Regions from separate parts of the Homo sapiens genome. Here region 1 is linked to region 2. The links come from fine-mapping of genetic effects on gene expression. A gene starts in region 2. The other region holds a variant in brackets. All regions are shown on one strand. Distances are between the middles of the regions.

Region 1 (5,368 bases), 93 kb before region 2:
TGCCACACATTCCAGTCTAGGTGACAGAGCGAGACTCTGTCAAGAAAGAGACAGAGAGAGAGAAAGAGAGAAAGAGGAAGGAAGGAAGGAGAAAGAAAGAAAAGAAAAATTATGGAATCTCCTGCTATGCGGCATTCAAAATAAAAAGGTTGGCCTGGAGCTGTGGTGCATACCTGTAGTCCCAGCTACTAGGAAGGCTGAAGCAGGTGGATTGCTTGAGCCCAGGAGTTGGAGGCTGCAGTGGGCTATGATCGCACCAAAACCGAAAACATACTAAGTTATGAGATAAAGCCAACAATGTTTTGATTACCTTTTCCCCAGTGTAGTGATTATGTGAATATCTATTCTGAAATTTTAAGAAATAAACTCGACTGGAGTCTGTCTCAAAAAAACAAAACAAAACAAAAAAACAGAAAGAAACTCTTTCTTCCACCTGAATTTTCTTTTTCTTTCTTTTTTTTTTTTGAGACGGAGTCTTGCTGTCACCCAGGCTGGAGTGCAGTGGCGCGATCTCGGCTCACTGCAAGCTCTGCCTCCTGGGTTCACGCCATCCTCCTGCCTCAGCCTCCAGAGTAGCTGGGACTACAGGCGCCCACGACCACACTTGGCTAATTTTTTGTATTTTTAGTAGAGATGGGGTTTCACCGTGTCAGCCAGGATGGTCTCAATTTCCTGACCTCATGATCCGCCCGCCTCAGCCTCCCAAAGTGCTGGGATTACAGGTGTGAGCCACCACGCCCAGCCCTGAATTTTCTTATGATTTGGAGCCAGTGCTTTGCTGGAGACTGCACGGCAGCCTGCCACAGGCAATTCTTCCAGCACAGTGATTTCATCAAGTGTGCAGTCATTCAGACCTTGGTGTTTTTCAGTATTATCCCTTACACAGTGGTGGCTGCACTAGCTACACCCCAGGCCTGTGGTGTGCAGTGAGAAGGTTTGGGAGGCACTGTGAGGGTTAAGAGGACGAGCAAATAAATGAAGAAAGAGTGAATGATATGGATAAAGCGGAGGGACACTCCTATCTCAATGCCAGTTCTTCCTGGTGCTATCCCCAGAAGCAGCCGGTCTCCTTGAGCACCTACAAGCTCAGCACCACCCCTCTGGGCCCACCATCAGCAGCTCACCCATCGGAGAGCAGGTAGTACTGGCAGGACATGGGGATGCCCTCCTCCGCGTGGACAGTCTGCTCCACGATGAAGACTTCAGCCTGCTGATGGTCTACCTGGATGGTCTGGAAGCCCAGGTTTTGCTGGCAACAGCCAAAATTGGGGGGTGGGAGGTAAGGTGGATGCCCGCCAAGGGCTCCCCATCATCTTACCTTAGCCTTTTCTCCATCTCATAACAACCTCAAGACATTTAATATTGCATCTCCAAACCTCCAAGCTGAGTTGGCGACCCCTCATAGGGAGCTAGCTCCAGGTTGCCCTTGCCCTGACCCCTCCCATGTCATCTCGCTGACCAGGTGCTTCTAGTTGGCAAATTCTGTTACAGGGATGAGAAGCGGTATGCGGGGGGGTGTGGGAGCGGAGAGGTAGGATGAGCTACTAGGGCCAGTGGGTGGAGGTAAAGTGAGGCTCAGAGGTGTGAGACCAGACAGATTTGTGGCCACCTCAGACCTGTGCTGTTGCTGGCAGGCTGTCCCTGTTGTGATTAAAACTTAAACCCCTGTTGTAGCTGCAGCTATGGAGAAAAAAGTGCTAATGTTAAACACATGTTTCAAAGAACACGGAGGGGAATGGATTGTGCTTGTTCATGTCAAATGCATTGCTGCTTGGTGTGTTTTGATAGACAAGCCTGGAATGTAATTTACAAAGATGGTCAAAGAAACACAAATCAGCCCCCAAAGTGTCTCACTGGAAATTGTGTGTTCAGTGGCATGGCTTTAAAATCACTGATTGCAGGAAGTCCTAGGCATGCTGATTATGAAATTTTAGTTAAAAACAAAAAACAAAACAAAAACGGAACACCCTTTGGGGTTAAGAAATAATAAAGGAATATTTCAGTAAAGTTGGACATGTTACACTTCCTAAAGTTAAAAAATGATTTATTTTTATTTATTTATTTTTTTGAGACAGAGTCTCCCTCTGTTGCCCAGGCTGGAGTGCAGTTGTGCGATCTCAGCTCACTGCAACCTCCGCCTCCTGGGTTCAAGTGATGCTTCTCCTGCCTCAGCCTCCCGAGTAGCTGGGATTACAGGCACTTGCCACCACACGCAGCTAATAATTTTTGTATTTGTAGTAGAGACAGGGTTTCACCATGTTGGCCAGGCTGATCTTGACCTCCTAACTTCAAGTGATCTGCCCACCTTGGCCTCCCAAAGTGCTGGGATTACAGGCATGAATCACTGCGCCTGGCCAAAATGACGTTTTTTTTTTTTTGTTTTTTTTTTTTGAGACAGAGTCTCGCTCTGTCACCCAGGCGGGAGTGCAGTGGCGCGATCTCGGCTCACTGCAAGCTCTGCCTCCCGGGTTCACGCCATTCT[C/T]CTGCCTCAGCGTCCTGAGTAGCTGGGACTACAGGCGCCTGCCACCACGCCCCGCTGATTTTTTTTTTTTGTATTTTTAGTAGAGGCGGGGTTTCACCATGTTAGCCAGGATGGTCTAGATCTCCTGACCTTGTGATCGGCCCGCCTTGGCCTCCCAAAGTGCTGGGATTACAGGCGTGAGCCACCACACCTGGCCCAAAATGATGTATTTTTTAAATCAGCCCTGCACTATATTTATTTTTCCTGGACTGACTTCTGTGCGGAAGGGTTGCTTCTCTGAACTGTTCCCACTTCTCAGTCACTCTCAATTCATCTGCCCCACACTCCCAGACAAACATGCTTTCCTGCCCTTGAAAGCCCCATTCCCACCTGTGCTGTTTTCTCCCCACCTGCCTCCCTTTTCTACTCCACAGCTGTTCCCCATCTCAGTGCTTTTCACGCCTTTTCTAGTTCGCTCCCAAGCCAAGTCCCCTGCCCAAGGGGACCCCTTACATAGGTCAAATAGCAGAGTTTGCCCTCGGTGTCCAAGGTCAGGAAGCGGGCATTGCTGGGCACCATCCGCCGCCAGGCCATCACCCTGAGCAGCACCAGGTTGGCAGCCTCTGAGATGAAGCCCTTGATTGAGCTCCAGGGGAAAGAAGTCACTCCAGTCTTCACTTCCTGTTCAGAACTGATCTGGGTCAGGGTCCTGGAACCAGGAAGGGGCAGGGGACAGGAGGGTGGGCAAGCCAGGTGTTGGGCATACGGTTTTGTTTTTTTTTGAGACAGAGTTTCGCTTTTTGTCACCCAGGCTGGAGTGCAATGGCGTGGTCTCAGCTCACTGCAACCTCCGCCTCCTTGGTTCAAGCGATCTCCTGCCTCAGCCTTTCAAGTAGCAGGGATTACAGGCTACCATGCCTGGCTAAATTTTGTAATTTTAGTAGAGACCGGATTTCACCATGTTGGCCAGGCTAGTCTTGAACTCCTGACCTGAGGTGATAGGCCCCCTCTGCCTCCCAAAGTGTTGGGATTACAGGCGTGAGCCTTTTTTTTTTTTTTTTTTGAGACAGGGTCTTGCTCTGTTGCCCAGACTGGAGTGCAGTGGTGCGATCTCAGCTCACTGCAACCTCCAGCTCCCAGGTTCAAGCGACTTTCCTGCCTCAGCCTCCTGAGTAGCTGGGATTACAGGCTCACGACACTACGCCCAGCTAATTTTTGTATTTTTATTAGAGGGGATTTCACCATATTGGCCAGGCTGGTCTCCACTCCTGACCTCAAGTGATCCGCCCGCCTTGGCCTCCCAAAGTGCTGAAATTACAGGCGTGAGTCACCACACGCCTGGCCTTCAGCCGGTCATATGGTTTTTAATGAATGAATCCTTGTCTTTTTTTTTTTTCCTTTTTCTGGAGAACGGGGTCTCGCTATATTGCCCAGGCAAGTCTCGAACTCCTAGGCTCAAGCTATCCTCCTGCCTCTTGCTTCTGAGAGCTGGGATTACAGGCGTGAGCCACCGCGCCCAGCCTAATGAATGAATCGTTAGTCTGGACTCCTGGCTTCATCTAATCTGGTCCCCGCTCAGAGTTCTGAAGAGGACATTGTGAAAGAAAAATAAATCTTGGGACCCCAAATCACTAAGCCAAAGGGAAGTCAAGCTGGGAACTGCCTCAGGCAAAGCTGCCTCCCATTTTATTCCTAAACAAGGTAGCTACTAAGAGAAAAAAAAGCTATATAACTCCCTCACTATTTGCCCACAAGGAAATTCCTTGTGGACAAAGGACAGACAGAACTCAAAGTCATCCCTCTGCTCACGTGAGATAAATGCATATCTGATGGCTTTCTCTGCTCTATTGTTTCACTAAGCCAGAGTAAGGCATAAGTGACTACTTTTCTAACCCCCATAGCATGTAAATTGTGTATTCAGTGAAAGGCTAATCGGAAACTTAAAAGCATGTCTCTTATCTACCTATGACTTGGAAGCCCCCTCCCTGCCTCGAGTTGTCCTGCCTTTTCCAATGAACCAATGTACATCTTTTTTTTTTTTTGAGACGGAGTCTTGCTCTGTCGCCCAGGCTGGAGTGCAGTGGCGTGATCTCAGCTTAGTGCAAGCTCCACTTCCCGGGTTCACGCCGTTCTCCTGCCTCACCCTCCCGAGTAGCTGGGACTACAGGCGCCTGCCACCACGCCTGGCTAATTTTTTGTATTTTTACGTCTGGTGAACCAGTGTACATCTTACACGTGTTGATTGATGTTTCGTGTCTCCTTAAAATGTATAAAACCAAGCTGTAGGCTGGGCGTGGTGGCTCACGCCTGTAATCCCAGCACTTTGGGAGGCTGAGGCGGGCGGATCACCTGAGGTCGGGAGTTTGAGACCAGCCTGGCCAACAGGGATGAAACTCCCTCTCTACTAAAAATACAGAATTAGCCGGGCGTGGTGGTGCATGCCCATAATCCCAGCTACTCGGGAGGCTGAGGCAGGAGAATCACTTGAACCCGGGAGGTGGCGGTTGCAGTGAGCCGAGATCACGTCATTGCACTCCAGCCTCTGCAACAAATGTGAAACTCTGTCTCAAAAAAAAAAAAAAAAAACAAGCTGTGCCCCAACCACTTTGGGCCCATTTCCTCAGGACCTCCTGAGGCTGTGTCATGTGCGCGTCCTTAACCTTGGCAAAATAAACTCTCTAAATTGATCTGGACCTGTCTCAGATATTCTGGGTTCACAGTGTGTAGTGCAACTCCCATCTGGCTCTCATCCTTACCTCACCCTCCTTGATACTTCTGGTCACAGCCAGCTGATCATCCTGCTTCAGCAAACTCATCTTCCGTTCCATGGGGAGGATGAGGAACTGAGGGCCAGAGCATGCGGGGGAGGATCAGGGACTCCCTGGGTCCCCCAGAGGTCACCTGACC
Region 2 (5,368 bases):
CACACCCTGAATACCTTCTTTGATTCTCTTTATTGTTTCAAGGCTGAGCGGGACCCCACCCTCCTGGCCGGCAGCTCTGAGGGCTTGGTCCCGAGGGCCCGGGGCCTAGGCTGGTTGCACTTAAGTCTCTGGGTTTGCCCCACCATCCAGCTGGGAACACTGAGCTCTGTGAGAGGGAGCACACATGAGTAACCAGCCCCACCCTCTGCCCCTCCCATCCCAAGGGACTCACAAACCCAGACCTGGTTCCTTTCTACTAAACACTCAATAACTTTATTTGCCTTTGGCTGGCTCCTTGGTGTGGGGCAGGGTAGGGTTTGGCAACAGCCTGGGCTTCATGCGCCCTCTGGTGGACCTCAGAGGCACGAACTGGAATCTGGGCCAAACCTGAGGACTTAACAGTCAATAGCCTAGGAGGGTCGCAGCGCTCCTCAGGTCTGCACCCCAGACCCAACATCAGGGGACGGGGCACTCTGGGAGGAAGCCCTGAACCTCTGGCTCTCATACTCGCCCGTGTTGGACAACCGCATGTTCTGCCGAGCCTTCATCTGCTTCACACGGTCCTTGTCCACTTCCCGCTTGGTGAGGATGAAGAGGAGGATACCACAAGGGAAGCCGATGGCCCTACGGGTGGGGAGATGTGCACGGGGTTTGGGGAGGGGCCAAGCCTGAGCCAGAGGAGCTGGGGGGAGTCATTCTAGCTTCATCAGTTGCATGAATGCTGCAATACCTCTTATAGTCTATTCATCCTCTGTGCTGGCTGCTGGAGGGACCCACACAAATCAGATCCTGTCACTTCCCTGCTTAAAACCCCGTAACTCCATCACTTCCTGGCCAAGTCCAAACATGGCACAAAAGGCCCAGTGTGGCTGGGTCTCTGCCTGCCTCTTTCCTCCTCCCGCCTAGAGCCTGATCCTCAGCACGAGCCCTGCATTCCTGCAACAGCACCTGTGCAGGATTTTCCAGGCAGCCCTGACGCTTTCCCTCTCTGAGACTTGGCCAAGGTACCCTCCCAGTTTTCCCCTCTTAAGCTAAGTAACCACTGCTTGGGAGGCACTTTGGTATGGGGGAAAGAGCATGGAGTCACAGACTAGGTGAGAATCCTAGCTCAGTCTCAGTTCCTTCCTCTGTGAAATGGGGATGTAATACTTATCTCAAACACTAAAACATTACATGGCAAAGTACTGGCACACCTCACATGCAGAAAAAAATGTTGATTTCTTCCTCCTTTCTCTTTAATATTGGTCAATAATATGTATTAAGGTCAGAGTCAGAGCCCAATCACAATGTTCATAACGCCTTCTGAGTACTACTATACAACTAGTACAAGCTCACATGATCTCAACGAACTACTTACTTAAACTTGGGTCTCACTCCAAGCTCCCAAAAGGGAGGATGAGGCCAGGGACCCAAGTCTGAATCAGATCAACTCAGCTTACTCCACAGTAAACCCACTGTCTTCTCAATTCCACATACTTTCCCACCTCCACTGCCCCACCCCTCTGAGATTCCAATCGAACCCAACAATTCTGTTCCCACAACTTTGGATTCAGCTCGCCACCTGAAACTTGGAGAAGTTTCTAAGTCCTGCCCTCCCCTACAAGCCACGCCCCGTTGGTGGGCAAAGGGGTGGTTAAAACTCACCAGGCCAGTCCCACAGCTTTCATGGGGTTCTTGCCCCTCTTTCTGGGAATGTATTCCAGCTCCGGGGATAGGGGTTCAGGTTCCTCCTTGCCCTCTGGGGAGCTGTGGCTTTGCAGGGCCCGGGTCCTGTTATGAGAAGCCTTGTTAGCTGTGGCTCCTGCGAGAATCCCTGTGGATGGAGGTAAGGAAGGTCAGTAAGAAGAGATGAGAAGAAAGCAAGCGGGGAGGTGGGGGGCAGTAAGGGCTTGGGAGGAGCGGCTGAGATCTGGGGAAGGGGAGTGACTGCAGTCTGAAGTAAGAAGTGCCAAGGAGAATCCAAAGGGAAATGGGAAAATCGCCACCGAGGTGGCACCTTTGGAAGCCACTTCCACGTCACTGCGGGCTCATCACCCTGGTGCCAGGACGAAAAGCTTCGCTGTTCTTCCTCAGACGACAGCATGGGAAGGACTGCAGTGGGACTCACATAAGACGTATGAAGGAAATCCGGGAAAAGGTTTTGAAACTGCAAATGTTAGCACTGGAAGGGACCTTAAAGATAGTCTACTCCATCCCTTGCACTGTACGGAAGAGGAAACTGAAGCCCTGAGAGAAAAACTGCTTTGCCCAAGGTCAAACTGCTAATTATCCGGGGCTGGAACTCAAACCTCCAGAAGCCCGGGGCTCTTTCCTCTGCACTGCGGTGAGTGTGAAACACCTGGAGCGCGGGAGTCCAACAGGCTTCCTAGGAGCTCCCTCTTGCAGCAAGACCCCGGAGGTGTCGAGCAACCCGAAGGCGGGGGGATGCACTGGGTGACCTCTAAAGAGCATCTCTGCACCCCCAGACTCTAAGATCTTGCAGAAAAGTGTGGGGAGGAACCAAGAGCCCTGACCTCCTGCTATCGTCGGGCTGGACGTGAAAGAAAAGGGATCTTCTGCAGTCCTGCCCTCCCCGGGGTCCCTCTCCTTACCCCGGAGGACGCGGGCATTTCTCGCCCCCCGGCCCTTCAGCGCCGTAGCAGCTACCACCGCCGCCATGTTCAGATCCCACCCCCGCTTCACCGCGCTCCCCGCCGGGAATTGTAGTTTGCGTAAGGGGCCTCCCCCGCTCCTTCCGTCCTGCCTACAGACCAGAAACTACATCTCCCAGAAGCCCGCAGAGCGGACCCAGGAGAACTACTCTTCCCAGGAGACCCCGGAGGCGCGCGCGCTCGCTTGTTTCCCTCCAGTTGGGGGCGGAGTCAGGTGGGGCGGAGTTTGGGTTCTCTCCGCCACGCCCCGGCCCCATCTTCCAATGCCGCTCTGTGATTGGTGAGGCGGCCAGCCAACCTTCGTAGCTATTGGCCGAACGGCCGTCGCTCTTCCTGCTGGGGAGTCGCCTACGCCTACTTCCTGCCGGGAGGAGGGGCTCGAGTTCCGCGTCGTCGCGCAGAGCTGACTCTGGGAGGCGTTTGGGCCCAGAGAAGTGGATCCGCCGCTTGCGCCGCATGGAGTCCGAATCGGAAAGCGGGGCTGCTGCTGACACCCCCCCACTGGAGACCCTAAGCTTCCATGGTGATGAAGAGATTATCGAGGTGGTAGAACTTGATCCCGGTCCGCCGGACCCAGGTGAGAACTGCCGCTCCTCAGGCCATGGGACAGGAGACGCTCACCCCTGGCCTCTGACTCCTGCTTTTCCCCGCTCCCCTCCACACCCGACTGGTCATTCCTACCGATATCCCTCTTCCCCTCCTCCCCCACTCCCACCCTCACACTTAGTTCTCAGGCCTGGCTGGGGTGGGGGTTCCCTGACGCCTCCTCTGGCCCTTCCCCTCACACACCCCCTTCCCATCATCCCCTTGGCCCTCCCTTACCGCACGGTCTCTGGCCAGCCGTGGCCTCCCGTCCTGTGTCCCGCGCGCCCCCGCGGACCCCGGTGTGTCTGACTCCACCTTCCCTTCTCGCCACATGACCCGCCCCAGCCTCAGGCCTCCTCATGCTTCTCTCCGTACCTCTTACCGCCTCCCGAGCCCCATCTTCTAACCCTCTCCCCAAAGCAGATGACCTGGCCCAGGAGATGGAAGATGTGGACTTTGAGGAAGAAGAGGAGGAAGAGGGCAACGAAGAGGGCTGGGTTCTAGAACCCCAGGAAGGGGTGGTCGGCAGCATGGAGGGCCCCGACGATAGCGAGGTCACCTTTGCATTGCACTCAGGTAGGTCTTTGAGGCGATCCACCTCAAATCAGTTTAGGTGGGCGTGTAAGCATTAAACATCAGCCATGGACAGAACGTTATGGGGGACACAGAGATGGGCAAGATGCTGGCCTTGCGCTGGAGGAGCCCACAGGTGGGAAAGTGTGGCAGAATGGATGATTGCTTGGCTTCTGGCATCAGTCGAGACACCCTCTACTTTGCCAGTTAACCTTGATTAACCTCTTAGTTTTCTTTTAAAAAGTTATCTTTGGCCGGGCGTGGTGGCTCACTCCTGAAATCCCAGCACTTTAGGAGGCTGAGGCAGGTGGATCACTTGAGGTCAGGAGTTCGAGACCAGCCTGGCCAACATGGCAAAACCCAGTCTCTACTAAAAATACAAAAATTTGGCTGGGCATGGTGGCTCACGCCTGTAATCCCAGCACTTTAGGAGGCCCAGGCAGGCGGATCACAAGGTCGGGAGTTCCAGACCAGCCTGGCCAATATGGTGAAACCCCGTCTCTACTAAAAATACAAAAATTAGCTGGGCGTGGTAGCGGGCGCCTGTAGTCCCAGCTCCTCGGGAGGTTGAGGCAGGAGAATTGCTTGAACCCGGGAGGCGGAGGTTGCAGTGGACCAAGACTGCGCCATTGCACTCCAGCCTGGGCAACAGAATGAGAGTCTGTCTCCAAAAAAAAAAAAAAAAAAAAAGTTATCTTTGATAAAAGTTAATAAAAGTAGTGAGTATAAAATTAGAGATAATTGGCCAGGTGCGGTGGCTCATGCCTGTAATCACAGCACTTTGGAAGGCCAAGGCGGGTGGATCACCTGAGGTCGGGAGTTCAAGACCAGCCTGGCCGACATGGTGAAACCTCATCTCTACTAAAAATAAAAAAAAAATTAGCTGGGTGTGGTGGCATGTGCCTGTAATCCCAGCTACTCCGGAGGCTGAGGAAGGAGAATCACTTGAACCTGGGAGGCAGAGGTTGCATTGAGCTGAGATTGTGCCACTGCGCTTCGGCCTGGGCGACAGAGCAAGATTCCATCTCAAAAAAATAAAATAAAATGAGAGATAATTATATCTTTTTGAGCATATTTTATATAACTTTCTCAAGTGCTAGTTCTTAGTAAGAAACTGTTGCCAGGCACGGTGGCTCATGCCTGTAATCCCAGCACTTTGGGAGGCCGAGGCGGGTGGATCAGAAGGTTAGGAGTTCGAGACCAGCCTGACCAACATGATGAAACCCCATCTCTACTAAAAATACAAAAATTAGCTGGTTGTGGTGGCGGGCGCCTGTAATCCCAGCTACTCAGGGGGCTGAGGCAGGAGAATTGCTTGAACCTGGGAGGTGGAGGTTGCAGTGAGCTGAGATTGTGCCACTGCACTCCAGCCTGGGCGACAGAGCAAGACTCTGTCTCAAAAAACAAAAAACAAAAAACAAAAAACCCTTAACGTGATGCTCTCCTCGCTCTGTACCCAACCCCGGTGGCATCCCATGCTGACAACTGTAAGCCCTGCACCTGTCCCCACCTCTTGTCCATGGCATTGGTGTTGGGTGGTGACGGGAGTCACACAGTGA

What was found. PIP is the estimated chance that this variant, and not a neighbour inherited with it, causes the effect. A credible set is the group of variants that fine-mapping cannot tell apart.
Region 1: its variant is the best candidate, but not a certain one, in a credible set for the expression of PNKD in whole blood (INTERVAL, PIP 0.60).

Annotation. Positions count from the first base shown.
Region 1 is chr2:218,360,509-218,365,876 of GRCh38, reverse strand. CATIP (ciliogenesis associated TTC17 interacting protein) reads right to left here. Exons shown (of 10, transcript NM_198559.2): 5 at 5,218-5,304; 6 at 2,975-3,142; 7 at 1,125-1,249. Among named protein-coding and RNA genes, the nearest start is that of CATIP-AS1, 4.7 kb to the left of the region's middle. The variant C/T (reference allele first, on the strand shown) is at 2,483.
Region 2 is chr2:218,267,826-218,273,193 of GRCh38, reverse strand. PNKD (PNKD metallo-beta-lactamase domain containing) reads right to left here and starts at 2,675. Exons shown (of 10, transcript NM_015488.5): 1 at 2,592-2,675; 2 at 1,645-1,813. The coding sequence starts at 2,658. It overlaps AAMP (angio associated migratory cell protein), which reads left to right and starts at 3,057. Exons shown (of 11, transcript NM_001087.5): 1 at 3,057-3,228; 2 at 3,660-3,812. The coding sequence starts at 3,108. RefSeq lists enhancers at 2,381-2,430, 2,461-2,840, 2,991-3,310, 3,879-4,764.